Linked DNA regions of Homo sapiens: region 1 is linked to region 2. The links come from fine-mapping of genetic effects on plasma protein levels. A gene starts in region 2. The other region holds a variant in brackets. All regions are shown on one strand. Distances are between the middles of the regions.

What was found. PIP is the posterior inclusion probability: the model's chance that the variant is causal. Protein levels are from the aptamer-based SomaScan assay of Sun 2018.
Region 1: its variant is fine-mapped to the plasma level of the AHSG protein (Sun 2018, PIP 0.95).

What each region holds. Positions count from the first base shown.
Region 1 is chr3:186,588,414-186,605,341 of GRCh38, reverse strand. It overlaps the pseudogene PET100P1. Among named protein-coding and RNA genes, the nearest start is that of AHSG, 16 kb to the left of the region's middle. RefSeq lists an enhancer at 8,108-8,402. The variant A/GGGAA (reference allele first, on the strand shown) is at 4,195.
Region 2 is chr3:186,607,193-186,616,936 of GRCh38, reverse strand. AHSG (alpha 2-HS glycoprotein) reads right to left here and starts at 3,877. Exons shown (of 7, transcript NM_001622.4): 1 at 3,583-3,877; 2 at 1,142-1,252; 3 at 410-494. The coding sequence starts at 3,795.

The DNA of each region.
Region 1 (16,928 bases), 15 kb after region 2:
CATCATCATCCTATTGACCAGGCAAGACTAGCACCAATGATTAAATAATAGGATGAATCATCCTGTGATTAGGAGTGAAATTAATTCTTAGCTCTCTGAGTGGGTGTGATCTGGTGCATGCACATGTGTGTACATGTGGACAATTCAACAATTACAGGATGAAGATTAGCCAGCTGCTACTGGCAGGACAGGAGGGGTTCTCTTGGTTTTCAGAGGCATATCTGGACCCTCAGAAAGATTAACAATGAAACCAACAAACAAGTCCTTCTTCTCCATAGACTACCTTGATGAGACTTCTTGAATGTTGAGAGGGAAAATATATGAGGCTAATGGAAGACCCATAAGAGGGGACTAAGCCTCCTACTCTGCTTGGATCTGGCATGGCTCTTGGCTGTAGCATTTCTTCACTCTTTGTTGTCTGATCTCTTGAATACACTTGAGGATATGGGCAGTCTTTGCCTCTCATGCTCTTGTTAGAATAGTAAAAGGAGACAAATTGAAATTGAGAAGGTGCAGATCACAGGGACAGGGCAGCTAATGTGGGCAGTTTTCTGTCTGTGCTGGGATTATGCAACAGGCAGCGAGATCATTTGGTAGGTTAAACAACAGATTGAGCCTCCAGAATTTAGATTCTTTTGTTTTTGTTTTGTTTTGTTTTGTTTTGAGACGGAGTTTTGCTCTTCTCACCCAGGCTGGAGTACAGTGGCACAATCTCGCCACCTCCTGGGTTCAAGCGATTCTCCTGTCTCAGCCTCGAGTAGCTGGGATTACAGTACAGGTGCCCGCCACTACGCTCGGCTGATTTTTGATATTTTTAGTAGAGATGGGGTTTCACCATGTTGGCCAGGCTGGTCTCGAACTCCTAACGTCAGGTGATCTGCCTGCCTTGACCTCCCAAAGTGCTGGGATTACAGGCGTGAGCCACCGCGCCCTGCCAGAATTCAGATTCTAATGGAGACTGAGGCGTGGGAGGATGGATACTTGCAGGAAGGTAAGGGTAAGATGGAGAGAGGCTGGATGGGTGGGAGGAAGAGGTGTGGGAGCAACCTGATGAGGGAGCTTACATGGAGAATCAGGATAGACCCAAGTCCAAACCCTGGTGCCACTATTTACTTGCTATGTGACCTAACTAGAGATTAAATCTGGCTCTGCCTTTGTTTCTTCATCTGTTAAATACGGGCAGTAAAACCTGGCTAGTAGAGATGAGCTGAAAATTTAGTGAGATAACATTTGCAAAATGCTCAGCGTAGGGCCTGGCACAGGGTAAGGTATCAATAAATGGGAGTCCTTTTTTGTTGTTGTTTTTTGGGATGGAGTTTCACTCTGTCGCCCAGGCTGGAGTGCAGTGGCGCGATCTCGGCTTGCTATAACCGCCACCTTCTGGGTTCATGCGATTCTCCTGCCTCAGGCTCCCGAGAACCTGGGATTACAGGTGCCCACCACACCCAGCTAATTTTTGTATTTTTAGTAGAGATGGGGTTTCACCATGTTGGCCAGGCTGCTCTCGAACTCCTGACCTCAGGTGATCCACCCGCTTTGGCCTCCCAAAGTGCTGGGATTACAAGCATGAGCCACCGCGCCTGGCCGATAAATGAGAGTTCTTTATAGCTCTAATAATACACTAGGACTGAGAGCACAAAGAGGCAATATAGGGAACACTAAAGACCAAGATACGGTCTTTGCCTTCGAGTGGCCTGTCTCTAGAAGCGATACATCCTGGTGGCTAAGAGTAAGGGTTCCTTAGCTTTAACAACTCAGGCAAATTACTTAACTCACTGCATCTCATTTTATCCTTCTGTAAAAGGAATAGCAGCAATGTATACTTCAAAGGACTAATGAGAGCATTAAGTAATACGGTATGCTTAGCATTCCTGGCATCAGGTAAGCGGCTATATTACCACTTACTCAGACGGTAGAAATATAACAGGTAAACAGTGCTAGAGGTCACATCTTTTTCCATCAACAGGCTGGCAAAGAGAGGGTTGTGTGTCGGCAACTTCCTGTAACAAGAGGAACCGGAACAAAAGGGGGATAGTGGTACTGTAGGAAAGTAACCGATCAATCTTTCCCCATTCTTTGTGCTACAAGGAACAGCGGCCAACTCAGGGAACCCAATGAGGCAGGACTCAAAGAGAAGAAGGCAGTAGGCATAGGTCAGAGTGGCTGGTTGGGGCTCAGGATGCGAGTACACAGCTAAGTTTCCTGCAAGGTGGAGAAGCAGGCACAGAGGTGCTGGGACAATGAAACAGGGCTGAGGAAGGAGAGGCGAGCAGCTCAGAAGCTTCCCTGGGAGGGGATTCCGTAGGCATTTAAAAGATTGTGTTTGCCCAGTGGACTTTCAGCTTCCCATTGGAGTCTGCAAGTATAATCACCAGGGCTGGCTTTCCAGGTGTGTGTCCTGTGCAGGCCCCTGCACTTAAAAGGACCCTGTGCCTGTGGAATGTTCTGCTGTGGCTGTCTTGAAATTCTTTTTTTATTCAAGACAGAGTCTCGGTCTTTTACCCAGGCTAGAGTGCAATGGTGCGATCTCGGCTCACTGCAACCTCCGCCTCCCAGGTTCAAACGATTCTCCCGCCTCAGCCTCCTGAGTAGCTGGGACTACAGGCATGTGCCACCCTGCCTGGCTAAGTTTTGTATTTTTAGTAGAGACAGGGGTTCACCATGTTGACCAGCCTGAATTTTTAGCAAGGGCCCTGGGTTTTCATCTTGCATTGGGCCATGTAAATCATATAGCCAGTCATTAATCATAACTAGTACGTTAGAGGAACCAAGTGCTGTAGGCATTTGCAGGAGAGTGGGGGTGGGGTGGGGGGAGTGGATCATTTCCAGCTGAGGGTGGACAGGGGGAGAGGAAAGAAGGTGTTGTGGACAGGGGACACTTTGAATTTGACCCTGAAGGATGGGCAGGATTTGGATAGATAGAAATGGGAGTACGGCTATCGGTTGGAAGGAATATGTTGGCAAAGTCGAGGTGTAGGAGTATGGACTTTGCTTAGGGAATGGTAGAAATCCTTGTGAACCTGGAGTCTGCTCTTGAGCTGCTCACATCTAGGCCCTTCCACAGGAATGCCATGCTCAGGTGGCCTTTCTATAGGGAGCCTTTTTCAAGGTCTTTAAAATCCTTTCTTCCAATTACCACTCTGCTAGGTGCCTGCCCAACTAATAAATTAAATCCAGCCATGTTATTCATCGAAACCTCAAGGCACAGCTGGAGAAAAGCAGATTTTTTAAAGAATCAGAAATTTTAAATTGAAAATATGGTCACTGCCGGGCGCGGTGGCTCAAGCCTGTAATCCCAGCACTTTGGGAGGCCAAGGCAGGCGGATCACCTGAGGTCAGGAGTTTGAGACCAGCCTGGCCAACCTGGTGAAACTCAGTCTCTACTAAAAACAAAAATTAGCTGGGAGTGGTGATGGGCGCCTGTAATCCCAGCTACTCGGGAGGCTGAGGCAGGAGAATCACTTGAACCTGGTAGGTGGAGGTTGTGGTGAGCCGAGATTGTGCCACTGCACTCCGGCCTAGGTGACAAAGTGAGACTCCATCTCAAAAAAAAAAAAAAAGAAAAATATGGAATTGAGGCTGGGCGTGGTGGCTCATACCTATAATCCCAGCACTTTGAGAAGCCAAGTTGGGAGGACCACTTAAGCCTAGGAGTTTGAGAACAGCCCAGCAATATGGTGAGATGCTGTCTCTAGGAAAAACAAAAAAAATAACTGTTATGGTGGCGTGCACCTGCATTCCCAGCTACACTGAAGGCTAAGGTGGAAGGATTGCTTCAGCCCAGGAGGTTGAGGCTGCAGTGAGCTATGATCATACCACTGCGCTCCAGCCTGGGTGACAGAGTGAGACCCTGACTCGAAAAAATGGGAAAAAATTGTCATTTAAATAAAAGAAAAATACTTAAAACAGGTCAAATAATAGATCAAATACAGACCAAGGGAAAAATCAATTAAGAATCCCTATCAAGCTTGGTGTCATGGCATGTGCCTATAGTATCACCAGCTTCTAGGAGTATCTAGTAGCTGATGAGACTACTAGGAGCCCAGGAGTTTGAGTCCAGCCTGTGCAATGTAGCAAAACATGGAAAGAAAAGAAAAGAAAAGAAAAGGGAAGGGAAGGGAGAGAGAGAAAGAAAAGAAAGAAAAAGAAAGGAAGGAAGGAAGGAAGGAAGGAAGGAAGGAAGGAAGGGAGGGA[A/GGGAA]GGAAGGAAGTAAGGAAGGGAGGGAGTGAGGGAGGGAAGAAAGGAAGGAAGAGGGAAGGAAGGAAGGAAAGAGAAACGAAGGAAGGAAGAGAAAAGAAAAAATATACAATTCTCATCATCTATCTTGCTCTCTTGATCTTTTATATCACAACTTCTGTGTAGGGATTTGCACAGCTGGCAAGAGGTAGAGGCAGAATTCTGACCAGGATCCAAATCCTGCCCTGTGTCGTGTGCCCCACAGTGCGACAACTCCTGCTTCACTCCCTCAGGGTGGGTTTCCCCAAACAGAAGCCTGGAGTTGTTCAGAAAACAGTGCAAGTGTTGGCTCTTACAAAATCACCTAGAGTCATACCATAGTGACACAGATGAGAAACAACATAAAATGAAAAAGGCATTTTTCTTTTAAAAATCTCACAATTTCTACCCTCAACTGACTATCCTAAAATTTGCATTTGAAATTGTATGTCTATGAACATATGACTGTCATCACTTATATTAACTCAGCATATTGTGAATGACGTGCCAATGTACATGTTGTTGTATTCCTTAGATTTGCATAAATATTGAACCTTGCCACTTGCTCAACAAGCTTTGATTTTTCTTTTTTCTTTCTTTCTTTTTTGAGATGGAGTTTCACTCTTGTTGGAGTGGAAGGCTGGAGTGCAGTGGTGCAAGCTCGTCTCACTGCAACCTCCGCCTCCCGGGTTCAAGTGATTCTCCTGCCTCAGCCTCCCAAGTAGCTGGGATTACAGGTGCCCGGCAGCATGCCCAGCTAATTTTTTGTATTTTCAGTAGTGAGGGGGTTTCACCGTGTTGGCCAGGCTTGTCTGGATCTCCTGACCTCAAGTGATCCGCCCACCTCCTCCTCCCAAAATGGTGGGATTACAGGCGTGAGCCACCACGCCCTGCCAAGCTTTGATTTTTCTTTTCCAATATGTGTCCCATAGCTTCTAAAAGTTTCAGCTCCCGCTCCTGAATTAAACAGGACAGAGTTGCATAGATAGCTAGTATGTTTTGTGCAGTCCCAGAGCCTCAGCCTCCTCCAAGCTGTGCTGCTGCTCTCTGGGAACTAGTGGGACGGACCACCTGCAGTAGGGCTGGAGAGTCAGGACCAACAGGCCTGGCCTGGTAACAGAGCCTCCGTGATCAATGGGAACAACAAGAGTGTTGCTTAGTTTTGGCTTCTGGCTCAGCCCTACTTTGAACTCATATCCAAGTTCTGTTACAAATAAGAACTGAAGAGACTGTCCCTAGAGGACCCCAGGAAGTTCAGGTATCTCTGTTTTGATGCCTGTTGACAGCTTGTAACACAGCAGAGAAAAGAGGCCTTCCTCTACAGTCTGCACAGAGCTCTGGATGGCCCTGGGTGCTCCGTGGCCTCAGCTGGGGCAGGAGAGGGCAGGGTCCAGTAGCCGGGCAGTGCCCGGGTCGAGGAAGCAGTGCCCAGCAACAGGCCGCAGTGTCTAGGAGAAGGCAGCAGTGCCCAGGGCAGGCAGTCACGCCCTGAAGAAGGGAGTGGTCCTCTCATAGTTCCTATGTCATTTGATCACTGCTAAAAAACAATGTCCACTCACTGTATACTAAAACACAGCATATTCTGAAAAGTGAACAGAGAATACAACCCTTAACCAAAAGAAATTTGGGAACGTCACATTTAAGAAGGGATAGGAAATGGTTACCAAGGACAGTTTAAACCAACAGAGACGACATGTAAAGAGGAGATTGTAAAGAGGGGCGGCAGCATTATCTCTTGGTAGAAAATCCAAAACTAACAGGTCAAGGTTCAGTGACTTTCTGATGTAATGAAGTGTAAGTTCAAAGTCCTTTTGTTATTCAGTGTCCAGGGAAAAATTATTGACCAGAGAACCCGAGCAGGGAATCGGGGCATACAGGGTGACCTGGAGTGGATGGGGATGGGGCCTAGGGCACCCTAATTTCCGTCAGCACTTCCCTTCCTTTGCTATGAATGACTGGTGTTTTCTCAGTTGAACATAAAATGCTATGTGAGCGCCACTTTGTGACATGTCAGTCCACCTCACCACCGGCCAGGCTACCTGAGCTCCACCCAAGTAGAAATTCTAACCCACCAGCAGCTACGAGCCTAAGTTCTGTCTCTGCCCTGCCACTCTCTGATGGTGTCTCTAACACACACACACACACACACACACACACACACACATGCCACATGTACTTTTCCACTTACAGGCCAGGCTGTTTTGGGGTGCACAAGGGCAGAGCCAGGGGGCCTACTACTCTGGAAACAGGGCTATAACCATGAGGTTGTCAGACTTTGATTTTTTGCAATTGCCTCAATTGTTTAGTTTTTTCCTTAGCCGAGGCATTTTGTTAAATACTAAAATAAGTGTGTGACTTAAAGTTCCTATCATTCTAACACTTTCCATTCAGATGCATTCATCAACAAGGAATGAAGTCACCTTTCAGAGCACACGTGTCAGGTCTGGAGCAGCTACAACTTACTGCTGTCCTGAGAGCACAGGGCCTGCTTGGCACAGCTCCTCTACTATGGTCCGCTTCTCTTGCTATAAACAGCGGTGGCCAGGGTCTGGTTCCGTGCCATACATAGAGGAGGTGGTGATGACATTTTCAAAGAAGAATGTGTGTGAAGGAGGAGGAAGGGGAGGTGGGAGAAGGTGATGAAAACCATGCTGCAGGAGTGGAGAAAACCAGAACCAGGGCAGGCGCTGTGGCTCATGCCTATAATCCCAGCACTTTGGGAGGCCAAGACGGGCAGATGACAAGGTCAGGAGTTCGAGACCAGCCTGGCCAACATGATGAAACCCCCATCTCTACAAAAAATACAAAAATTAGCCAGGCGTGGAGGTGTGTGCCTGGAATCCCAGCAATTGAGCAATTCTCATGCCTCAGCCTCCTAAGTAGCTGGGATTACAGGAGGCAGAGGTTGCAGTGAGCCGAGATCGTGCCATTGCACTCCAGCTTGGGTGACGAAGGGGAAACTCTTTCTCAAAAGAAAAAAAAAAAGAAAACCAGGCTGGGGCACAGTGGCTCACACCTGTAATCTCAGCAGCTTGGGAGGCTGAGGTTGGCAGATCACTCAAGGTCAGGAGTTTGAGACCAGCCTGGCCAACATGGTGAAACCCCGTCTCTACTAAAAATACAAAAAAGTACCCAGGCATGGTGGCGCACGCCTGTAATCCCAGCTACTTGGGAGGCTGAGGCAAGAGAATCATTTGAACCTGGGAGGCGGAGGTTGCAGTGAGCTGAGATCGCGCCACTGCACTTTAGCCTGGAGAACAAGAGTGAAACTCTGTTTTGAAAAAGAAAGAAGAAAGAAAGAGAGAGGGAAAGAAAGAGAAAGAAAGAAGGGAAGGAGCGAGGGAGGGAGGGAAGGAAGGAAGGAAAAAGAAAGGAAGGAAGGGAAAGGAGGGAAGGAGAGAAGGAAGGAAGGAAGGAAAAAAGAAAGAAGAAAGGAAGGAAGGAAGGAAGAGAAAGAAAGAGAAAGAAAGAAAGAAAGAAAGAAAGAAAGAAAGAAAGAAAGAAAGAAAGAAAGAAAGAAAGAAAGAAAACCAGACTCATCATCAGCAAACCCCAGATGAGGATGCCTAATAGATTGGAAGGCACCTTCTTAAGCTGTGTGTTGGGAGGAGTCTGAGCTCAGGGATCTGCTGCGGAGGACAGGCTGGAGCACGGCCTGCACCCCACCCTGCACTGGCTGGACTCCTCTGTGTAGGAGCTGGGCTCTGGGTATCCCTGGTTTCCCAGTGCCTCCTGAAGTTCATGCACATAGTGGCTGTTTAATAAATGTTTAAGCAATGAAGTATATTGTTTTAATCTTATTTTTCCCATTGAAGAAACCTACAATTGCTCCTGATGTTTTCTCTTTTTTTTTTTTTTTTTTGAATAACAAGGAACTGAGTATATGTATATTTCATCAGGGGAGGGGCTAGGACTCCCACTTGGAGGCCTCAGGAGTTCTGCTGGGCGTCGCGAAGGAGCTTCTCCTCCCGCCGCTTCCGCTTCCGTAACCTCTCTTTGAATTCCTCTAACTCTTGAAGCTTCTCAGGTGGCCACAGCTCCCTCTTGCGCTGTATGACATCATCCTCAAACCACTCGGCCTGATTGGAAACCCAGAACATAGCCACAGGGAAAGTGAGGTAGATTATCATCCGAAATATCTCCAGCTTCACCCCCATCTCGTTTCTCCCCCTGATTGTTTCTTTATACCAAATGAAAGCTTTCACGAGTGAGCTCTCCCTCTCTCCTTTTGATGTAATTGTGCCCACTTCATCTCTACACCAGAGATCATGGGCTTTTCTCTGGCTGCCAAGAGTACAGAGAGCCCCTCCCTGAGTCATATGGGGAGGGGTAGGCATGAATAGGCCCCGGGCAGCACTCGGAAAGGGGAGTTAATATGACACTAGAATGACCTGGAAGCTGGACAGCAACCAATCTGTTTCCCTGCATGACTCTCCATAGTTGATAGAATGTGCACCGGATCCATCCTTTCCACAGCAGGCAGTGCCCTTTCATGCAAATAGAGGAACATTTTAAAAAATGTTCTTTGTGGCAGGGTGCGGTGGCTCACGCCTGTAATCCCAGCACTTTGGGAGGCCGAGGCGGGCGGATCAGGAGGTCAGGAGATCGAGACCATCCTAGCTAACACAGTGAAACCCCGTCGCTACTAAAAAATACAAAAAAAAATTAGCCAGGCGTGGTGGCGGGCACCTGTAGTCCCAGCTACACGGGAGGCTGAGGCAGGAGAATGGCATGAACCCGGGAGGTGGAGCTTGCAGTGAGCCGAGATCACGCCACTGCACTCCAGCCTGGGCCACAGAGCGAGACTCCGTCTCAAAAAAAAAAAAAAAAAAAGATGTTTTTTGCTGGTTCTGGGCTTTCCTTCTTGAGGGTTTTTGCAAACTGTGCCTTCAAGCTCAGACTGTGACAGGGACTCTCAGACCAGCCAGTGGGCTGTTGCCAGCTGTCAGGAGTCCAAGTCAGCCAAAAATCTGAAATATCACTGTTTATAGCAAACAACTAATATATTTTATTATCTAAATTGTAAAAATCCCTTAATATTTACCTTAAGGAGATTCATAAAATTAATAACTACACAACAAACAAAAAGAGACAAACAAAAATTTAAAAAATAATAGAGCAAACAGGCTGAGCACGGTGGCTCCTGCCTGTAATCGCAGCCCTTTGGAAGGCCGAGGCGGGAGGATCGCTTCAGCCCAGGAGTTCAATACCAGCCTGGGCAACATAGTGAGATCCACATCTCTATATAAAAACATTAATAAACAGTATTTTAAAAATAATAATAAATTTTTAAAGGAATACAGCAAACAAAAGTGGGAGAATTTTGCCAACATACGATTAGAAAAAAAAAATTTAAAGATATTTACAACCTCGTCTCTACAAAAAATATGAAAATTAGTCAGGCATGGTGGCATGCACCTGTGGTCCCAGCTACTTGGGAGGCTGAGATGGGTGGATGGCTTGAGCTTGGGAGGTCAAGGCTGCAGTGAGCCATGACTGTGCCACTGCAGTCCAGCCTGGGTGACAGAGTGAGACTCTGTCAAAATGTATATATAATATATATATTTATATATAACATATGATGTTTATATTATATATATTATATACAATGTTTATATGATATATATTTTATATAATATACAATGTTTATATTATATATATTTATATATAAATTTTATATTACATATTTATATTTTATATATAATATATATTTATTTATAAATATATTATATATATTTTTCCCCAGAGGCCTTTAAGCCCATAACCATGTAAGTAGCCTATCTTCTTAGTATGTATAAGTGTTTAACATTATTCATTAAAATAAACAGAAAATGGAAATGAAAGCCAATTATAGTTATGCTTATGTTTTTATCATATAGTCAGCACATGCAATAATTTATCTTTAATATAAAGGAAGAGGGTGCATATACAACTTGTACCAAACAAAATTATTTTCTCCCTGTCCCCTGCGTAAATGTGCAATGTAGAATGTTGTTTTCAGTGTGTGCCAATCTGTGAACCAGCTTGGGAAGGCTCTGCCTTGGTCTGGCCCTCCCCTGGCACGTGTTCACCCGGGTGACAGTTGTGCTATGGTGCAGCCCGACCTGGTCTCCATGCACAGCTCTCATGAGTTCCTCCTTCATGAGACAGTCTCAGAACTCAGCCTAGCTCTAGCCCCTCCTGTGCCTTCAGCCATCACTCTGCACTTGCTCATAACAGTTCTGAATGACGTGAGCTGCATGGGCTTCCATGCAAGCAGCACCTTTCATGCTGGGGCTTAGAAGGATCAACTGTCCAGGTTTGTCTGGGACTGAGAAGTTTCTGGGACATGGGACTTTCAGTGCTAAAACAGAAAAAGTCCCAGGCAAACAGAGATGATCTGGTTACCCTAGTGCTGGTGGGGAAAGGCAATGGGTCACACCAAGCGCTGTAACTCTGGACTGCCAGATCTCTAGCAGTGAAGGTCAGAGGTCTGAGGCTTCCTGCTATACAAACACTCTGCCAGGTGGCGTGTCTCAGGCCAGCTCCTGAGATGTCTGCTCTCATTTCTCCCGAGGCTCTGTGGCTGTTTTATCTTTCCCTCTTTCCATGTTTAGTAATAGCCCTCATAGCAGTTTCTGTTTTTCTGGGCCTAGAGCAGGCTGAGAATGTAGGATTGGTTTCCATGTATTCTCTGCAGATATTCTTCAGCGGAGACATTCTTGGTTTTTTCCCAAGGAAAGGGTGTCACGGGGTCAGAAATCCACACCTGTGCAGGTCAATGAATGTTTTACACTGTTTGACATTGGGGAAATTTGTTAGTGTTTCAAAAATATGTCTTAACAGAGATGCAAATTGGTTCAAAAAGTTTAGTCACATTTATTATATAACAGTAATAATACCTAATATTTAATGAGTGCTTGTTACATACCAGGTACTTTAAATATATCATATTGTTCAATCTTCACAATATGAGTTGGGTGAGGAGGCTCAGAGAGGTTGTCATACTTGTTCAAGGTCATGGAGCTAATAATTGGAAGAGAAGGGATTTAAATCCAGTCTCACCGCAGAGCCAGCACTTGGACTTAGAACTGTAGACTCGGAGCTAAGCACAATCATGTTTGAGCAAACCAATGAGAAGACTGCAGTTTCACATACTGCTTTCTGGACAACTGTGCGGTGTGTCAATTAAGTGTGTTTCCTTCCTGGACCTAGGTCTATGTAATTGAGGGGGCTCTCAGTTTCTATAGCAAGAGTTAAATAAAAGACAACATGATATCTGTGCACTGAGTGGATCCAGGAATTATCCACGGTTTGGCCACAGTGTCCAAAATTTTATTATCATTCTGGGATTCATATTCATGTGGGATTCATATCACCAGAATTCCAGAGACACCACACTCAGGGCTGGTAGCCTATGGCTACTTCTCAGCTCAGCCAGTTCCTCTCAGAAGTGAGCCATGCTGATAAAAGTCTGGGCTTGAAAATTCCTAAGGTTTGTGCTTCAAAGGCCACCATAGAAATAAATTTTAGAAACCACGTACTGTGATAGTTTGTGACAGCTCAGTTTTGCATTACCTTCCTTGATCAAATTCTCTGTATGCACATACATGCTCAGATGAGCTGGTTTGAGTTCTTCCCTAGAGTTTCAAGTTCAGTGCCTTCAAATATCACATCAATAGTGTCTTGGGGCTGGGCAAGGTGGCTCACACCTGTAATCCCAGCACTTTGGGAGGCCAAGGCAGGCAGATCACCTGAGGTCAGGAGTTCAAGACCAGCCTGGCCAACATAGCAAAACCCTGTCTCTACTAAAAATATAAAAATTAGGCGGGCATGGTGGTGGGTGCCTGTAATCCCAGCTACTCAGGAGCCTGAGGCAGGAGAATCCCTTGAACTTAGGAGGCAGAGGTTGCAATGAGCTGAGAAAAAAAAAAGTGTCTTGGTCTGTTTTCTGTTGCTTGTAACAGAATATCTGGAACTGAATAATTTATAAATAAAAAAATGTATTTCTTACAGTTATGGAGGCTGAGAAGTGCAAGTTCAAGAGGCCAGATCTGGCGAGGGCCTTCCTGTTGGTGAGGACACTGCAGACTCCCCAGATGGTGCAGGGCATCACATGGTGAGGGGGCTGAGCATGCTAGTTCAGGCCTCTCTTTCTCTTCATAAAAGCCAACAACCCTATTGATTCACTGGTCCATGAGTAGATTAATCCATTCACAAAGGCAATCACCTCATGATCCAATCGCCTCTTAAAAGCTCCCCCTCTCAATACTGCCACATCGGGGATTTTCAACATGAGTTTTGGAGGGGGCTAAAATTCAAACCATAGCAAGTAGAAATGCCTATTTTTAGGTTGTTCTTATGGGCTTCACAGAGAATTTCTCAAAGGTCTTGTTCTGAGTTCTAAAATCTCTTTCATTATCTACAGTTTTACCATCTAAGTGGATCAAAAATCGAGGAATCCTTTACGTTCTTCTTCAATGTCTTCAAAATGCCCCCTACAAAGGCAATGGCCACACATGAAGGGGACATAGCTTTAACCACTTGCTCATCAACAGACTGGGCTTGTGAGGCCCAGGGCAAAAATCCTGTGATGGATAATGCAGGCAATGCAGAGTGTGGCCTCCTTCTCTGTTTATTGCATAGACTGTTGAAACATGTTTTACTGTCATTTTTTTGTTTGTTTGTTTTTGAGACAGAGTCCCGGTCTCTTGCCCAGGCTGGAGTGCAGTGGCGTGATCTCGTGATCTCGGCTCACTGCAACCTCCGCCTCCCGGGTTCAAGTGATTCCCCTGCCTCAGCCTCCTGAGTAGCTGGGATTACAGGCATGCACCACCGTGCCCAGCTAATTTTTGTATCTTTAGTAGAGATGGGGTTTCACCATGTTGGTCGGGCTGGTCTCAAACTCCTGACCTCATGATCCGCCCGCCTTGGCCTCCCAAAGTGCTGAGATTACAGGCATGAGCCACCGCGCCCGGCCATTGTCATAATTTAATTGTAAGTGTTCTTTCTGTGGTAAATGAACTCAACTTTCCATGTTTAACTAACATATTTAAGATTTCTTACTGGCCAGTGATTCAGCCTTTGTTTGTCTTGCTTGCTGGCTAATTAGGTGTGTGCGTTTTATGTTAAAAAGCTCTCTTATATATCCCAGCACCTAGCACAGTGCCTGGCAATCAGAAGAAATAAATTCAGTGATGATTATGTTGAGTCCTGTAGAGTAGTAGAAGATACAATTTACTTGAAGAGACTTTTCTCATACTATTAGGTTTAAAAAAACAGATAGTTGTCCTCTTTTTCTGGAACTGGGATCTGAGAGGTGTTGGCAGCTATAGTGAGAAACCAGATCTGTCATTTGACATTCCTCTCAGTTTCGAGTGTCCATAGATCAGCATCTCTCATGTTCTCATTAATATCACCGATGTGTAATCCACATTTCCCAGGCACCCCAGCAGAGAAAGGGATAATCCTAGGGGCCAGAATGGTGTGACATTTGCTCAGATCTCATCCCTGAAACTCCAGCTGCGAGAATGCTTTCCTTCCTTGATGGCAGGGATAGGGGTTGGTACTCATGGACTTGCAAATGGTCACCTCATTCTTTCTGAATTCACTTGCCTTTTGTGAGCACTATGTGGCCCCTCCATGGCTGTTCTGATGTTCCACAGTCTCAGCTGCTAATTGTATGGCTGTCTCATTTGATCACCTGGGGCAAACTGTATTTTCCAAAAAATGGCCACAACAATATTTGCAGGTCTACATATCCTTCAGAACCTTAAAGATTCTTTTCTTGAAAGGTCCAGTCTAATTCCCCTCCCCAGGAAGAGGGATGAGCCTTTGTGGCTGCCTCCATAAATGAAAATGCGATGGAAAGGATGCTGCACGACTTATGAGGCTAAGTCATAAGAAGAACTAAAGCTTCTACCCATTTCCACTTCCTTTTGGGAAACGTGTCTTGGGAGCCCTGAGCCAATATGTAAGAAGTCCAGCTATGTATAGCCACCATGCTGCAGAAACCACACAGAGATAAAGATTCGTGAGGAGTCTCCCCATTTCCAGTTCCCAGCTGCTTGAGTCCTCCCACCTCCCAGAATGAACTGTCAGACATGTGAGTAGAAATGACTCCAGACCCAGCCTTCAAGCTGTTGTCCCAGCTGACACCAAGTAGAGCAAAGGAGTTGTCTCCATCAGTCTAGCTCATATTGCAGATTTGTGAGAAAAAAACAAATGTTGCTGCGTTAAGCCAGTAAATGCTAGGATAATTTGTTATATGACAATGACAAGAGTAACCAGGACACCACCCTTGTGTTATCATTACGTTCTCCCCTTGCTTCTTGTGATGCCCTTGCTTTTCTTCTCTACCAGTTGCTGAGAATTAGAGGAAGACCTTTGCTCCCACCAATGTCAACATTTCTTTACCAGAAAACACAGAGGCATTTAACTCATATTTCGAAGACTTACAGCTTCTTATAATGGCCCTGGTGGTTATACTTTTTGTTCTACTGACTCTATTTTGTTACAGTTACTCTGCCCACAAAGTGCAAGACCCTTTGTGATTATGTTGGGGGACATCAATTCAAATGACACCGTGATAGCATTACTGTCAAATCATGCTTCCCTCTCAATGCTGTTGATGAAGCTGGTGTACCCCAACCCTGTTCTTACAGGTTAAGTTGCTTTTTCCCACTTGAAACATTGTACAACAGCCAAAAGCTTATCTGGTCAGTTTTAATGCGTCCTGCCCCTTCCTAGGACTTATTGCAATGACAAACATATAAGAGCTGTGAAAACTCTGTGACTTACACACAGTAGGCACCTGGTGTTTTAAGTGCTCTTCCTGAAATGCTCACTGACAATAAAACTATTGAACAGATCAGGACTGAAAACATAGCTTTGTTTTGTGCCAGCAAAGACTCTCTTCTCTCCTTTACAGGTTGACATTGAGCCATTAATCAACAGTATGTTCAACAGTAACTAGTGAGTTATGAATCCAACTATGTGCCTCTATTTTATCTCCAGGGGATATCACAAGATGAATCATCAAACACCTTGCTGAAAACATTATCACATTTCCTGTTCTGGTTTAATGTTACCTAACTGGTAGAAAACACAGAAGACTTAATTACATGATTGCTTTTTTTTTTTTTTTTTTGAGATGGAGTCTCGGTGTGTTACCCAGGCTGGAATGCAGTGGTGGCGCAATCTTGGCTCACTGCAACCTCTGCCTCCCACGTTCAAGTGATTCTCCTGCCTCAGCCTCTCAAGTATCTGAGATTACAGGCATGTGCCACCACACCTGGCTAATTTTTGTATCTTTAGTAGAGATGGGGTTTCATCATGTTGGCCAGGCGGGTCTCGAACTCCTGACCTCAGGGGATCCGCCTGCCTCGGCCTTCCAAAGTGTTGGGATTACAGGCATGAGCCACCGTGCTCGGCCTTGTTCTTAATCACCTAATTTGGCCCCTTGCAGTGGCTTCCATAACTGTTACTAATTCTCGGAAACCATCCTTTAATTTATTATTATTATTATTTGGCAGAATCAGGCTCCAAATCAAAATCCAGCCTGTATGGCATCTGCCTTGTCTACGTTAAGATTAAGGGAGACTAAAAGAGGAGGGTAGTTAAATGCATTATTATTTGAGTTTGCATTGAAAATTATAATTATTATTGTTTTACTTAATATCCTGATTTTTAGTGGCAAGAGCTAGAAAATGGCTTAAAAAAAAAAAAAAAAAAACAGGTCTGGGGCTCCAGAGCCGATAGCTCTCACGGCATTATTTTAGCGCCACCTTCACACAAACATCATGCATTGCAGAGGGAAGGAAAATTTTAAAAAATCATAAGCCTCCCAAACCTCAGTTGTGCAACATATATTATTAACTTGTTCTTTTTGAACTGCCTATCCCAAGAGAGGCATTCCAGTTGTAAATGTCAAATCAACCAACAACTCTATGAAACATGTACTGTTATTATCACCATTTTACAGAGGGAGAAATTAAGGCACAACTAGTAAATGGTAGAACTGGAATTTGAATCTGATCAGTGTGATTCTAGAGCATGCACATGGTAACACTATGGTACATAAAACCTCCCGTTTTGTTTCTATATTCTGTCAAAAAATGATGTTTTCAATATAAAAGGGTAAAGTGAACATCAGTAAGAGGAAATGGAAGTCCAAGAGGGAAGAGGTGATTGATGATAAGAAACACTTTCTTTGAAGGAAATCCTGTCTTCTGGACTGGAGACAATTCCAGAATACTGAGAAAATCACCTAAATGTGAAAGTGAAGATCCCTAGGCCCCAGTATGGGCTCACGAAGAGTGTCATAACAGACACACCTCATTTCCTAACAGGCTGTTGTCTAACTGGATTTCAACAAGATCTCTCAGCATACCTGTGTGGACAAGATAAAGAAATATGGCTAGATGCAAAATCAATTATTCTTATGGAGGTTGATACGACTTTACCCTGATGTTCAGATGATTGTCAACCTGGAGCAAGCTTTCAGTGGCAAAATCTAACTAAGAGTTGACTTCAATTCTTTGGCTAGTGCTTTTATTCACTGTTTAGATGAAAATCTTATGTCTCAGTCAATACAGTGCACAGATAACATCAGGTGGAGAGGCTCATACTGAATGCCTGAATTGGAGGATCCCAAAACATGGTAACAGACTGGACCACTGGGCCAACTGAGTGAGGGGGAGGTAACTGAATAGGAGTAAATATGAGGCCCTTTATCCCAA
Region 2 (9,744 bases):
AGGCTGGAGTGCAGTGGTGCGATCTCGGCCCACTGCCACCTCTGCCTCCCAGGTTCAAGCGATTCTCCTGCCTCAGCCTCCCTAGTAGCTGGGATTACAGGCGAGCACCACCACATTTTTGTATTTTTAGTAGAGATGGGGGTTTCACTATGTTGGCCAGGCTGGTCTCGAACTTCTGACTTCAGGTGATCCACCTGCCTCGGGTGGGTGGATTACAGGCGTGAGCCACCGCACCAGGCCAAGAGTAGCTTCTTAAAACACAATTTTAAAAATCCCAGAACCCAGGAAATTTGGCTTCTCCTTTTCCTCACCGACAAAGCTGCTAGAACTACTTAAGTTGAAAATTATTCAGATCCCTTCCCCACTTTCTCTACAAGGAAAAAATGAGAATAAGAATAGTCATCTGTACCTGGACTGGAATCACATTTTGCGTATACCACGGAAAACTTGCCATCTAGTTTCAACAGCTGGAAATCACAGTCTCCTTCGACAGCCTGGAGAAAGAAACCCACGTGAGGATGGCTGCCCTTCCCCTTCGCACCCCGGGCAGGCTCCCTCCAGGCACGGCTGTCAAAGGTGACCCTTGCAAAATCGCCTTTGCTGGGTAATACTGAAACATGGCACTCTCTGCTTTCAGGGATACAACGATATAGTTAAACGCTTGTAAAAATCAGCCCCAGGGCAAGTGGCATCAAATGGCAATTTTATTTATGATGATGATTATTATTATTATTATTTCGAGATAGAGATTCACTGTTGTTGCCCAGGCTGGAGTGCAATGGCAGGATCTTGGCTCACTGCAACCTCCACCTCCCGGGTTCAAGCGATTCTCCTGCCTCAGCCTCCCGAGGAGCTGGGATTTACAGGTGCCCGTCACCACGTCCAGCTAATTTTTGTATTTTTAGTAGAGATGGGGTTTCACCATACTGGCCAGGCTGGTCTTGAACTCCTGACCTCAGGCGATCCACTTGCCTCAGCCTCCCAAAGTGCTGAGATTATAGGCATGAGCCACTGCGCTCGGCCACAAATGGCAATTTTAGAAACTGCACCCTGGCTAGCCAAGAAGGCAGGCTGAGACGCTGGGTGAATCGGTGGAGCTGGCCGAAGGGCCACCTACAGTCATCCTAAGAAGGGTACTCACATGCTCCTTCAGCTGCCTCACGCTGCATCTTGCCACAGGGGTGGGGTCCAGCACATGGCAGGTGGTTTCCAGGGTGTCTATTTCAATCTCAAACAGCTCTCCGGAGGGCTGCTGTGGAGACAAAGAGTGAAGCCGTGAGCAACCTATTCCCCTGATCCTGTGGTGCGGTCCACGGTATGCGCCCTCATTGGGCTTGAGAGCACCCCGCTTTTGGAGAGGTGAGGGAAATGTCATTCTTACTGTCAGTCTGCAACTCCGTCTAGCTCTGAACTGGCCTGTGGGCAGGACAATGACCAGGGCTTGTCTGGTCTTCGTCTGTTGATTAAGGAAGCACCAGATGATGCTCGCAAAGCAGACGGGGTCCTGGGCTTGAACAAGTCGATGGAGCCACAGCCCTCACTCTGAGCTCTATTTGAAAACTACAAATGGGTGTTAACACTTATTTGTATTTATTATTTATTTAATTTTTTAAGATTTCACTCTTCAAGCAGTGCTTTGGAAAATGCAAGTTTGGATTTTTCTCAGACAAGCTGCAAAATAAGGTGGTGTAGGGTAATATCTTACTGTCTTTTTTTAATCTCCTCTATCCCTCCCTCTCCTTCTTTCTTTCTTCCTTTTCATTATTTGCTTTCCTTCCTTCCTCCGTTTTCTTTTCCCTCCTAGAGGTTTTTGCTGCTGTTGTCCTTGGTTTTTCCTTTGTCTTGGCTTGTGCAGCAGGTGCCGGCATGCAACGATGCTGCTCTCTACTTCCCCCTGCTGGCGATAATGGGGAAGGGCATGTCTCCCTCTGACAGGAAACTGGATGTCACTAGTGTAGACACGAGGGAGCTTGCAACAATCCTTGGAGATATTCTTGTGAGTTCACCTGTTTCTGTATCTTGTCTTCGAAGCCTGAAAAATCCAGAAGGTACAAGTATGCCTTTTCTCCTCTCAGCCCAGCTCTGTTTGCCTCTCATTGGTTCTGCCTGATTCACTAGTACCTGAAGCCTCAGCATCCCCTCCCCTGGGAGAAGCTCCGCATTTTATGATGTCCAGGTGTGCCCAGAGTGACTGCCTGAAAGCGTTCACAGCTCTGGCGAACAGGAACCGGGTACACCTGGGTTTCTCAAGGGAACCAACTCTGAAGCTCTGCCTTTAGTAAAAGTCACAATGCCCATTCATGATTACCTTTTCCCTCAGATGTGCGTGTTGCGTGTTCATTTCCCCTGACTTGATCAGCGTTTCCTCCTAACCACCACTGTGCTTTAATATGGCTGCAGCACTCTTAAAATCCATCCGGAGCAATCCTGATTTCAAATATTTTGTCTCTTTGTGAGACGGATGGCAGTCGTCAGTCGGTCCAGGCTTCCTGTTGTTGACCTTATTTTCCAACCTAGATTGTAAGCTCTTGTGGGCACATATTGTGCCTTTTTCACCACTGTATTAGGTTGAACCATTAAAACGGCCAATATTTGGTTGCTTTTGATATAGAAAAATGGCAGTTTTATATGGTTCAACCTAATATCTCTGGTTCTTGTCCAAGGAAGGCTTGTAATACATATTTGCTGAAAGAATTGTCCTTAATCAGAAATAAATCTAATTTCAAAACAGGCAGTAGGCAGACAGCTTCTTTCCACCTCTCCAAATCTCTTGACTGATCCCCGAGGCATATTTCCAGCTTGATTTTTCTTGTCACTGGCTTCAAGCTGCGTTGGTTTCCTGTCTAGTGTGTGAGGAGGTGAATTGTGTTTATGCCAAGACTTCTCTCTGGGATGTGGGTAACTCTCTTTGGGAGGCAGTTTGTGTAGAAGAAGGAACACAGATATGGAATCAAATCCCAGCCTGAAGACTTAGTAATTATATGATTTTGGACCAAAAAAAAAAAGACAAAAACAAAAAACAAAAAAACTGCACACACACACACAACAGAGCCTTGGTCTCCTCTTGGGTAAGACAAGAACAATATATGTACCACACAGCACCAGGAGGCAGGACCGGGAAAGAGTAAATGAGATAATCTATGTGAATGGGCCTGGCATATAGTAGGCATCTGCCAGATGCTAGTTTTATTCATTCTCAGTCTTTGTTAGAGAGAAACCAAACCAAAGACAGATACGTGATTTTCAGCCAGTGGTAACTTGGCAACTAGGAGCTGGTCTCTTGGGTCCTAGTTTTTCCAGCAAGTTACACTTTCTGTCTGTGATCTGCACACTACCATTTGAAGCACTTTTTCTCCTGCACACCACCTCACACCCCACCCAGCTCCCTCCTGACACCCATGACTGCCATACAGAATGTCTCCTCTCCTGCCCTCTGCCTGCCCCTTCCCTCACTCCTGGGAAGAAATCAGAGAATTTACTCCTCTGTGGTTTCATTTGCACTGGGTGATGGTGATTTTTTGAGGCACCTGATTGAGCTCCATGTACACATTATTTCAGCTCATAGACAGCAGGTCCACTTACCTGAGGCCACACCTTTACTTCATCAATCTGGTTCAAGGTGTGTTTGTATCCCCAAGGAAGGTTTTGATTGATGTAGTCTATAGCCACCAGAGCTGCTTCCTCAGTTTCTGGATCATCGCAGTTCGGTTGTCTATAAATCAGCCCTGGGCCATGTGGGGCTGAGTGGCAGCCCCAGAGCTGAGCAAGACAAAGGAGCAGGACGAGGGACTTCATGGCTGCCCCAGAGAGGCCCTGGCAGGCGTGCAGGTGGTTGGAGGCTTCGGGACCAACCCAGGTGCTCTGCTGGGAAAGGTAGACCCATGGAGGGTGGTGGGCTTTATTTATCTGTTGGAGCCTGCCGGAAGAATTGCATAAGGATACAGGATGATTTCTGCTTTGGTTCAAAAGAAAAAAAAAAACACCCTGCAAACATCAGCCCTGGAAAAGCAAACAGGTTAGGACATCGCTGGTCCCCAAGAAATCTGCCAAAGTCCATGCTGCTGTGGGGGAGATGCTCCAAAGTCTGCTTGGAACATGGTAATAGCAGCAAAGAGAAGACAGCTGAGGGAATGAGGTGGACACAGTCAGCCTCAGAGTGCCATGGGTTTGGCAGCAGAGGAAATGTCTTCTACTGTGATCTGAGCATGCCATGGGGTCTGTGAGAGGGAAGGGAGGATACTCAGCAATTTGATAAAATTCTCCAATGTCAGGGGGAGTTAGCTTTCCAAGAGGAGTCCTACAGGGAGAACAAGGCCCACAGATATAGCAAAGGTACAGATGTGTATAGGAGATGCCAAGATTTTGGGGGAAGATTCTTGGAGAAAAGAAAAAGGATGAGAGATGTTTCTGCCTAAAGTGGGGAATGGAGGTGGAAGAAGGGGGTTCCCGTGGCAGGACCACGGTGGGAAATGACCAGCAAAACGTGTGGGGTTCCCTGCCCCTTCTCTTCCTTCTCCAGACCTCACTGCCAGGGCCCTGCATGTGACAGCACAGATGGGCACTGACCAGAGTCTCCTAGCACTAGTAACCTAGTGCCCCTGCCAGTGCACAAGGGCAGCAGAGGGGAGTCCTGACTCATTTGACACAGCTCTGGGTTCGAGTCTGACACCGCAGGCTGAGATGCTGCACGAGCAGCTACGGACACAAATACCCCTTGAACATTCTTTGCAGACTCAGCAGAATTACAGTGTGTCTTTCTGGCCAGAACAGAGGGCCAGTGTTGACTCCAGGCACTGCCTATTAAGTGACCCTTGACAATTCCAAGTGTGACATCCAAGGAGGGTTGGCAGGATAAAGAGAGGCTTGGGAAATATCACACAAGGACCTGGTTTGGTTTAGTCTGAAGCAAAGAAGCCCTCTCATGGAGACCAACATGGTCTTCAAATATTTAGAGGCCATCATTGTGTGTGGGTGAATTTGTTCTAATGTTTGATATTGCTTCAGAGAAAAAAAAACTGGTTAAAAAAAAAAGAAAGAAGAGGGGCCCCTCCAAAGGGAAGCTTAATATTGATTTTCTGGGGTGAGAATCGGGGTGAGGGAGGTGAAGTGAGTGGTGATGGGGCAGAGAAGGTAGTTGGCAGGACTGTTCTCACATTTACTCCCAGCTGCTCACACACCACACCGAATCTTAATGTCAGAAGCTCAGAAGGTGTGGCCAGGACTCCAGGTTCTCTCCAAGAGGGGGACCATGATTCTTCCAGATGAAAAACAAACTCTGGTCATCCAGCAAGATGATCCTCAAAGCCAGGGGCAATCTTCCATCACCTTATACTCCATTTCACTCAGGGCCCTGACTCCTGAACTGTGTGTGGAAGCTATGCTTTTCTTTATATAATCTTTAAAAATATTGAAGGGCTGGGCACGGTGGTTCACACCTGTAATTCCAGCACTTTGGGAGGCTGAGGTGGGCAGATCACGAGGCCTAGAGATTGAGCCCAACCTGACCAACACAGTGAAACCCTGTCTCTTCTAAAAATACAAAAATTAGCTGGGCGTGGTGGCGCGCGCCTGTAGTCCCACCTACTCGGGAGGCCGAGACAGGAGAATCACTTGAACCCAGGAGGTGGAGGTTGCAGTGAGCCAAGATTGCGCCACTGCACTCCAGCCTGGCAACGGAGTGGGACTCCGACTCAAAAAAAAGAAAAATTGAATAAAGTGTGGTAAGGTGGCACACACCTGTAATCCCAACTATGAAGGCAGGATGATAGCATAAGACCTGGAGTAGGCTATGGTTGCAGTGAGCTATGATAGTGCCACTGCACTCCAGCCCAGCCAACAGAATGAGACTCTGTCTCAAAAAAGAAATCATTCACAATCTCATCATGCAGAGATAAACAGTGTTAATGTTTTGATGCATTTATATCTTTTCTTTTTTTCTATGTAAAATAATATTTTAATATAATTTTGATTATACTGCATATACAGCTGTTAAAATTTTTTCACCTATTGCTTTAACTTGAATATTTTCCTATGTCATTAAGTAGACTTAAAAACATGTTTACAGGCCAGGCACGGTGGCTTACACCTGTAATCCCAGCACTTTGGGAGGCCAAGGCAGGTGGATCATGAGGTCAACAGATAGAGAGCATCCTGGCCAACATGGTGAAACCCCATCTCTACTAAAAATACAAAAAATTGGCTGGGCGTGGTGCTGGACGCCTGTAATCTCAGCTACTTGGGAGGCTGAGGCAGGAGAATCACTTGAACCTGGGAGGCAGAGGTTGCAGTGAGGGGAGATTGTGCCACTGCACTCCAGCTTGGGCAACAGAGTGAGACTCTGTCTCAAAACAAAAAACAAAAAAAAACAAAAAAAAAACAAAAAACAAAAAAACAAAAAAACACACTTTTTTATTTAGGAATCTTTGGCTTTTGATTCTTTTTTTCAGGATAGATTTTTAGAAGTAAAATTATTGATTCTAATGATTTGCACATTTTTAAAGCTCTTAATTTTTATAGTCAAATAGTCTATTTGGCTATGCCAATTTATCCCCCTTCCATTTAGCTGTTGTGTGATGTCAGCTCAGCTGTTTTCTCTTTTCCTCTGTTACTGCTTTCATGCTGACTTTTGTGGGAACTTAGATATGTGAACACTCTCAGAATTCTTTTTTAAAAATGTAATTTATGAATATCTTTGCTTTTATCACAGCTACTCCATATGTCTAATACTTATAAACTAAAATAACTTTGGTATCAAGCTGAGTAAAATGATCCCTTAGATTTTTTCAGTTTCCTTAGAAAGAAATGTTGCCATTTACTTACTGGAAATGAGGAAGAAAATAGATGATATTTTGGTATGTTTTCCAAGATGGCTGTAGCATTAGTGCCAATGGGTAGTTCCCTGTGCCTGATGACACCAGTTTTAAACTTTAAAAGATTCTCACTTGCCAAATGTATATGGGACTCATGAGTGATCTTCACGTGCTGAATACATATACTCATGAGTAATCTTGGGTCAGTTTGATCCAACTGGCTCCAGCTTCTTTGCATATCAGTAGGAGATAGGCATTTCCTCCATTTTCTGGTCCTTTGCTGCATTATTTTAGTTACTTTTCTGTGCATTTTTCTATGAGGCTCACATCACAGCAATAAAATAATCCTCATTCCATTCACACTATGATGGCTGATAGTGTATTGAGGATATCAAGGGCTTGTTAGAACTGGTCAAGGAGAGCAGGCCCAACAGTCTAAGGAGCAGGAGAGGATCAACAATCTCCAGGAGATGGCAGCAGGGTGCCGGGCAGTGCTTGCTGGGTGCAACCCTTGTGTGGCTGATGGCAGAAATCTCAAGATGGCAGCTGTCTTAGTCCATCTGTGTTTCTATAAAGAAAAACCTGAGGCTGGGTAATTTATACAGAAAAGAGGTTTATTTGGCTCATGGTTCGCAGGCTGTACAAGAAGCATGACACCGGCATCTGCTTCTGGTGAGGGCTATAGGCTGCTTCCACTCATGGCGGAAGGCAAAGAAGAGCTGGCGTGCGCAAGCTCTTGGTGAGAGAGAGGAGAGATGCCCGGCTTTTTCTTTCTTTCTTTCTTTTTTTAACAACCAGCTCTCACGGAAAATAATATAGCAGGAATTCATTCATTACCACCAGGATGGCACCAAGCCCTTCATGAGGGATCTGTCTCCATGACCCAAACACCTCCCATTAGGCCCCACCTCCAACATTGGGGATTACATTTCAACATGAGACGTGGGGGGACAAACATCCAAAGTAGAGCAGCAGCTAAGGATGGCACCAGGGTTCCTGAATTTGTCAAAAGGACTCTTTGCCAGGGAGCCACTAGGGCAAGTGTTGTATTTAAACTATTCCAAGGCAGAATTCAGTGTTTATAGTTGCAGGCCAGGAGCCACAACAACAAAGATCACCAGGGTCAGAGCTCAGGGTCAGAGTTTCTCAGAGGTTGGTTCCATTAGTGGATGTGGGTATAGGAGGGAGAGGATAGATATAGAAAGATATGAAATATCCCGTCAGGCAGCAAGAGCTAAGGTGATAGCTAGAAACCAGCCTCTCACAAAACAGAAGATGAAAAAGTGCCTGTCAGCAAAAGCCAGAAGGACAACTGGTTTCTGTAGGGAGGAAATAGCAGTGGTTGGTTTTTAAATCATTAGGTCAGGTTCATGGCTCTGCCCTTTCTGGTACTTAAAGGGCCTAGGCCCTGATAGACTGGGTATTAATTTCACTCAAAGACTGGGTGTTTCTTCATTCATATGTTCAATGAACAAACATTTATTGAGCACCTACTATCTGTGTTATCAGATGCCTGGACACAGAGTGATGAGAACCACATGCTCTGGAGGAGCTCATCTTGACTCATTTAGTCCGGCAATGCCTGATCAGCAAAGAACTTTATGTTAATATATGAAACTATCATAATATTATTATACAAATTATCATATTTTCCTGTGGAGACAGGTTGGGATTTACTTCGCCAATGCAAAGCACCAGTGAATGAAAGCAAATTACCTTTGTCCAAGGACCCATCTGGTTTCTTGTGAAAGTAACTTAGCACCAAGCACCCTGGAAGTCATCAACCCATAATTAGGAAGAGCCCCTTGTACTCAGCACCAAAGTTGGGAGATGTGGGCCCAACCGCAGGTGGCAAAAATGACCATAAGTAATGGCTCCATCTTTTGGGGTGGAAAAAGGGCTCTGCAAGCCTTCCTCCAACGCTGCCCTGATAAGCAGGACCTAGCTCTGCAAATCCAAACCCCAGAAAGGAAATTGCATTTGAGAACATATAAAGGGAACAGTAAGGCCTGGACTAGAGTAGGGCAAGGGAGTGGGTAAAGGTGCAAATTTCAAGGAGGCCTCTCCCTTGAGGTTGCTGCTTCTTAAGTGTTGTGCTCTAGGCCTCTCTTGCTGTACCTTTGTCCTGCCCTGCGGAAGAGGCATAATCGAAACCCAGGATAGAAAAAATGTTTCTGGCTGGATGCGGTGACTCACACCTGTAATCCCTGCACTTTGGGAGGCCAAGGAGCGTGGATCACCTGAGGTCAGGAGCTTGAGACCAGCCTGGCCAACATGAAGAAACCCCATCTCTACTAAAAACACAAAAATTAGCCAGGCATAGTGGTGCGCACCTGTAATCCCAGCTACTCGGGAGGCTGAGGTAGAAGAATCGCTTGAATCCGGGAGGTGGAGGTTGCAGTGAGCCAAGATCGCGCCATTGCACTCCAGCCTGGGTGACAGAGTAAGACCCCGTCTCCAAAAAAGAAAAAACGTTTCTACTTCATCAAATATTTTTTCTCTTTCAAGGGAAGTTCTTTTAACATTTGGGCTGGTGATCCTATGTGTGCAATGGGCCCCAAAACACAGCAGTCCTTGCAGTAAACTTTTCATCATCACATAAGAAACAATGGGAAACCTTCCATTCTCTTTTGTACAATAGGAAGGAGACTTACTGCTACATACTGTTTAGTGTGGCCTTGACACTCACTTAAACATTCTGTCTTATAAGAGAATCACTTCACGGTTAAAGAAATGGGGAGATTTGAGCTTTCCAGGCCTGGAACAGCACCTGCTCAGGAAAACAGCATCATCATAGCTCCTGTTACTGACTTATTCATAAAAGGCATGAGAGCTGAACTATTCTTATCCTTCCTCCTTTACAGAGGGAAAAAAGGCTGAGAGGTTCTGGAACTTGACCACATCACACGCCAAGAAAATGGAAGGGCCTGGATTT